Homo sapiens: one gene and its partner. The protein of the gene in region 1 purifies or fractionates together with the protein of each later gene. This does not show direct contact. Each region holds a gene or a part of one and is shown on either strand. Other genes may lie near its edges.

Region 1 (3,500 bases):
AAATTAGCCGGGCATGGTGGCACCCACCTATAGTCCCAGCTACTTGGGAGGCTGAGGCAGGAGAATCGCTTGAACCTGGTAGGCGGAAGTTGCAGTGAGCTGAGATTGCGCTACTGCACTCCAGCCTGGTTGACAGAGCGAGACTCTGTCTCAAAAAAAAATTAATATATATTATATATCATATATAAAATACATACATATTCATATTTAATATATACATACATATAAAATATATAATTATAATGTATTTACATATTGCATATTTATAATTATAAAATATATTATTTAAATTATATATTTATGATATATTAATATATTATAAACATTATATCCTTGTATTATATTATATATTTATATATGATATATATTTATTAAATATATACTATATATATTATATATCCCATTATATTGCCAGGTTGTTCCATGTGATCTAAAGCCAGGCCACGCCACCTCAGGATTCAGCCTCAGCCAAATATGTAAATATATATATTTATACATATGTATTTATACATACATATGTATTTATACATACGTATTTACATATATGTATTTATGTATTATATATACTATATATATATTTTTTCTTTTTTTAAGACAGGGTCTGGCTTTGTCTCCCAGGCTAGAGTGAGGTGGTGCAACTGTGGATCACTGCAGTCTTGACCTCATAGGCTCAAGCCATCCTCCCACCTCAGGCCACTCAAGTAGCTGGGACAAAAGGTGTGTGCCACCATGCCTGGCTAAGTTTTCTTTTGCTTTTGTTTTGTTGAGACAGGGTCTCATATGTTGCCCAGGCTGGTCGTGAACTCTGGCGCTCAAGTGATCCTCTTGTCTCGGCCTCCCAAAGTGCTGGAATTACAGGCATGAACCACTTTGCCTCGCCAGAATCTATCTTTTGAATTAAGAAAACTCCCTTACATCGAAACTTTTTTTTTTTTTTTTTGAGACAGAGTCTCGCTCTGTCACCAGGCTGGAGTGCAATGGCACGATCTCTGCTCACCGCAACCTCTGCCTCCCGGGTTCAAGTGATTCTCCTGCCTCAGCCTCCTGAGTAGCTGAGACCACAGGCACGCACCACCACACCCAGCTAATTTTTGTATTTTTAGTAGAGACAGGGTTTCACCATGTTGGCCAGGATGGTCTCGATCTCTTGACCTCATGATCCGCCCGCCTCGGCCTCCCAAAGTGCTGGGATTACAGACATGAGCCACCGTGCCCAGCCACATCAAAACTTTCAATAGTGGCTGGCTTGTAAGACTTCCCCAAGCCTGGCCCCAACCTAATCATGCATTCAGTGAACAAATGATAAGGGTTGACTCTAGTGAGTTCCACACCAGATGCTGTCCTAAGAACTTGTGTGTGTTAAGATAAAAGCTCAAGGCAGGGTGCTGCTGTTATGCCTGCCTTACAGAAGTACCTTGAGCAATTCAATATTATCTTTGTCCATGATTAAAATATTGGCCTTTGCCACCAGCAAGGAAAGATGCCAGCCTGTAATCCCAGGACTTTGGGAGGCCGAGGCAGGTGGATTGCTTAAGCTCAGCAGTTCAAGACCAGCCTGGGCAACATGGCGAAACCCTGTCTAAAAAGTACGAAAATTAGCCAAACATGGTGGTGCATGCCTGCAGTCCCACATACTTGGGAGGCTGAAGGGGGAGGATGACTTGAGCCCAGAGGAAGAGATTGCAATGAGTCCAGACTGTGCCACTGCACTCCAGCCTGGGCAACAGAACTAGAGCCTGTCTCAAAAAAACATTTAAATTAAACATTTAAATTAAAATAAATAAATAAAAGGGCAATATGGCAAAACCCCATCTCTACTAAAAATGCAAAAGTTAGCTGGGCATGGTGGTGGGCACCTGTAATCCCAGCTACTTGGGAGGCTGAGGCAGGAGAATCGCTTGAATCCGGGGGGCTGAGGTTGCAATGAGCCAAGATGGCGCCACTGCACTCCAGCCTGGGCAAGGGAGTGAGATTCCATCTCAAAAAAATAAATAATTAAATTAAATTAAAAGGAAAGGAAAGATGCGAGAATTGACACCCAAGGGCCCCAAGTTCCCAGAGAGGTGAAAACGTTAAGGCACACAGAGGCCCAGGAACCAAGGCTGGCACCCCGTCCAACTCCAGAACCAGCACACTTAAGAATACTTGAGCATTTACTGAATGCCTACTATGTAGTAGATTTCTGCCAAGGCAGGCAGAACAAAAAGACAAACCAACAGCCAGGTGTGGTGGTGCACACCTGCAGTCCCAGCTACTCAGGAGGCTGAGGGGGTAGGATCACTTGAGTCCAGGATCTCACTTGGGTAACACAGTGAGATCCCACCTCTATAAAACATTTAAAAATTAGCTGAGGGTGGTGGCATGCACCTGTAGTCTCAGCTACTCAGGAGGCTGAGGCAGGAGGATTGCTTGAGCCCTGGAGGTTGAAGCTGCAGCAAGCCGTGATTGTGCCACTGCACTCTGGCCTCAGCAACAGAGCTAGATCCTATCTCTAAAAAAAACACTAAAGAATAACACTATCCAGGACCAGGCGCAGTGGTTCATGCCTGTAATCCCAGCACTTTGGGAGGCTGAGGCGGGCGGATCCCCTGAGGTCGGGAGTTTAAGACCAGCCTGACCAACATGGAGAAACCCTGTCTCTACTAAAAATACAAAATTAGCCGGGCATGGTGGCTCATGCCTGTAATCTCAGCTACTCAGGAGGCTGAGGCAGGAGAATCGCTTGAACCCGGGAGGCGGAGGTTGCAGTGAGCCGATATCGCGTCATTGCACTCCAGCCTGGGCAACAAGAGTGAAACTCCATCTCAAAAAAAAAAAAAAAAAAAAAAGAATAACACTATCCAAACCCCAGATGGACTCTTTCCAACCTCAGCTCTACATTACACACTTACACATCGTGAAGTAAACCTACTGAATGAGTCTCTCTTTCCTCGACGCCAATTGCTAGGGTCTGCATCAGTCCCCATTCAGCTGTTTGCCCTCCACTAAACCACAGCAATCTTCCTGTAATTGCTTCTAATTCTTCTTCTTCTTCTTTTTTTTTTTTTTTGAGATGGACTCTCGCTCTGTTGCCCAGGCTAGAGTACAGTGGCATGATCTCAGCTCACTGTAACCTCTGCCTCCTGGGTTCAAGCAATTCTCCTGCCTCAGCCTCCTGATTGGCTGCGACTACAGGTGCAAGCCACCATGCCTGGTTAATTTTTTTGTATTTTCAGTAGAGACGGGTTTTCACCACGTTGGCCACACTGGTTTTGAACTCCTGATCTCAAGTGATCTGTCTGCCTTGGCCTCCCAAAGTGCTGGGAATGCAGGTGTGAGCCATGGCGCACGGTAAGTTGCTTGTAATTCTGTCAGTTACAGTTCGGGAGTGCCCGTTTAGAACTTTATCCCACTGCTGTGTATTTGCTTAGCTCTCGCTGAGAGAAGCATTTTCCTTTGTCCTCTGACTACAGCTGGAGGATCTCCAGGGCAGGAACTGAGTGCAATGCACCCTTTGATCT
Region 2 (3,500 bases), on another chromosome or scaffold:
CCAGGAATGAAAAGTTGATTTAACATTCAAAAATCAATAGATGTGTGACTTCGGGGTACATACCGAAAAAAAAGAAGGGAAAGCAGGAACTCACACAGATATACTTGTACACCCATCTCATAGCAGCATTATTCACACTAACCCAAAGGTGGAAGCAGCCCATGTGTTTATCAACAGGTGACTGGATAAAGTGTGGTACATACATACAAAGGAATATTACTCAACCCTAAAAAGAAAGGAAATTCTGACACATGCTATGACATGGATGAACCTTGAGGACATTACGCTAAGTGAAATAAGCCAGTCACAAAAGAACAAATACTGTGGGATCTCACTGATAGGAGGTACTTAGGGTAGTCAATTTCATCAAGACGGAAATTAGAACAGAGGTTGCCAGGGGCCGAGGGGCCAGGGGAAGGGCTGAGGGTTGGTGTTTAATGGGCACAGAGCATCAGCTGGCGAAGTTGAAAAGTTCTGGAGGTGGATGGTGCTGATGGTTGCACAGCAATGTAAATACCCTTAGTGCCACAGAACTGTACACTCAAGATGGCTACATGGCACATGGTATGCTATCTGTCATAATAAAAAATAAAAATAATTTTAAATGTTAATATGTGCCGAAAAATGCTTGCTAAAATTCTATTAATGATCAAAACTTTAAATAAACTGGAAATGGAAGAGAACTTTCATCAGCTATTAAACGATATTTTAAACAAAAGCAAACAAAAATCCAAACCAAAAATCTTCAAGAAACATAATACGTAATAGCGGAATATTGAAAGCTTTCCCAAGGGATTGAGAATAGGACAAGAATACTTCCCATTATTTCCATTTACTCTTGACTGGAGGTACTCGTTGGTGCGGTAAGGAAGGGAAATAAAAGGAAAACGATTAGGAGGAACATAAGCTCTCGTTTTTCACAGATGATGTGATTGAGTACCTAGAAAAATCCAAAATTAACCATCACATAAATTATTTGAGCCAATTAATTAAATGAGTAAGAAGTCTCGATACAACGTCAATATACAACAGCAAGCACTTGCTCGTTCGCAAAAGCAGATGAACTAGTTTTTACTGACACTAGAAGCAGCATGTGTTCCATGTGTTCCACATCCATGCACTCAAACAACCTTGACGTGAAATATTTTTTAAAAAATTGTATCTGTACTCAACGTGTGCAGAGTTTTTTTCCAAAATTGTTTTCCAAAAATTTTTAAATGTTTATATGTTTAGGGGGTGTAAGTGCAGATTTCTTACATACATATATTATGCGGCGGTGAAGTGCCGGCTTTTGGTGTACCCATCACCCAAGTAGTGAACACAGCCTCCAACAGGTAATTTTTCAACGCTCACCCCACTCCCATCCTCCCATCTAGTGGCATATTGAAAATCAATTTGTCTTGTAAAATTAAATAATCCAATTAGGAGGGGGATATATTCTAAGGAAATTAGTGCATGATGCACACACACACACACACACAGAACACGTGTGTGCGCATGTGCACATGAGAGAGAGTGAGAGAGAAACTGGGTCTTGCTCTGTCGCCCAGGCTGGATTGCAGTGGTAAAATCACAGCTCACTGCAGCCTCAAACTCCCAGGCTCAGGAGATCCTCCTACCTCAGCCTCCCGAGTAGCTGGGATTACAGGTGGAAACAACCATGCCCAGCTAGTATTTTTTTTTTTTTTTGTATTTTTTATAGAGACAGGGTCTTGCCATGTTGCCCAGGCTGGTCTTGAACTCCTCAGCTCAAGCAATCTACCTACCTTAGCCTCCCAAAGTGCTGGGATTACACGCATGAGCCACTGCGCCCACTCCGCATTATTAAATATAGAACATTTATTTGATTCATCAGTTAATATTCTTCTTAAAAGTACTATTTTAATGTAGCAAGATTGCTTTCCACCAAAAGGTGGGGTTTCCACGGTGGGGTTTCCAAATTATTCTCAATGGGGTGAGGATGTGTGTTATCACACCCCCGAGCCATCAGATGCTGTCAGAAAGTGATCACTCTGAAGTCTTTGTTTCAAATAAGCACAGGGTTTGGATAAAGAGACGCAATTAGGAAAGGAAAAAGCAGAAGGCTCGTTCCAGACCTGGATGAGATCCTAAAAAGCAGCAGCTTTTGCCAGTAAAGATCCTTGAAATGATTCAATTACCCTCAAAGCACTCCTTGTCTCCAAGACAATCACTCATAAGCACAATTCCATTGAAGCCAACGTACCATTTTGTGATTTTCGTTTCCACCTGAGGCTGTTCATTCAATAAACTCACATAAAAGTGTTTATTGCCTTGATTTCCAAATTCAGGCGTATTTCCTGGTAAGTAGAGCTACTTGCCTTGCCTTTATGAGATTACCACCTAACTAGATGTATGCCCAGTAAAATCCAACATAACGCATGCCATGTACTACATCACAGAATGTGTGACTCAGTTGTTGAAGGACACCTGCTTTGAAGGAGGGGACATTACTACGGTCTTCACACCAAGCGCCAAGTACTGCCAGGTAGTCTGCACTTACCACCCAAGATGTTTACTCTTCACTTTCACGGCGGAATCACCATCTGAGGATCCCACCCGATGGTAAATGCTTATGTTTCTACATCGAGGAGACAGATTTTTAAAGGGAGATTGCTATTCTTAACACATTTCCATCTAACATTTTATAAAATTTAACATTAACAACTGGAAGATAAATTGTCTTTCAGTTGAAATATTGTTACAGAAAGAAGTGATGGTGTTTACGCAATTTAGAAAAGAATAAATATGCCTCCAAGTGTAGACTTTCCAGCCTCTCCTATAGTCTCATATTAATGGTATGTTTCTTCTGTTTGTCTCAATTTTTACACTTCTTAAACATTTCACACTTTGCTTTTCTATCGATTATTAATTTTTGTCGTGCTTCTCAACAAACTGGAACTTCTCCCAACTATTTTATTAGAAAAAAATAAAATATTTAAAAAGAAAATTTGAAAAAAAGTACAGTACAGTGATCCCCCTGCCACCACCAAAACCGCAATGTTTGCTATATTTGTACAGCAATATACAATATACAATACCTATATTTGTATACATGTTTAACCGTTTGAAATAATTTTAAAACATGACACTTTACCCCTAAATACTTCAGCATGCACTATCCTACACAAAAGACATACGAAATTTAACAAGAATTCCTTTATATTATTTCAGTTTTCCCTCAAATATAATTTATAGTAATTAACCAGAATCTTACCAAGAGTCACTCACTGCATTGGGTGGTTTGTCAGGTTTAAAACATTTTAAACAGTCCACCAACCATTTGTATTCCCATCCTGAGCTTGAAAATTTAATAATAAGCCTTTCTGTAGAATTAAGTTTTCAACATCTTTATTATTGCTACATTCACAGGCATTTATGTAGCACCCAGAACTTATAAAATTTACTATTCCAGAACCTAGAGCAGGGATTGGCAAATGTCTTCTTAATAACGCAGAGTAAATATGTTAGGCTTTGTGGGC

What was found.
Region 2: the proteins of BRME1 (region 1) and F11 purify together in Homo sapiens (affinity purification with mass spectrometry; one large-scale study listed by BioGRID and IntAct). This does not show direct contact.

Annotation. Positions count from the first base shown.
Region 1 is NC_000019.10:13,896,118-13,899,617, forward strand, and holds part of BRME1 (break repair meiotic recombinase recruitment factor 1), read right to left. Parts: intron 1-3,500. UniProt on the Homo sapiens protein: Meiotic recombination factor component of recombination bridges involved in meiotic double-strand break repair.
Region 2 is NC_000004.12:186,269,189-186,272,688, forward strand, and holds part of F11 (coagulation factor XI isoform 1 preproprotein), read left to right. Parts: intron 1-2,420; coding exon 2,421-2,583; intron 2,584-3,500. UniProt on the Homo sapiens protein: Factor XI triggers the middle phase of the intrinsic pathway of blood coagulation by activating factor IX.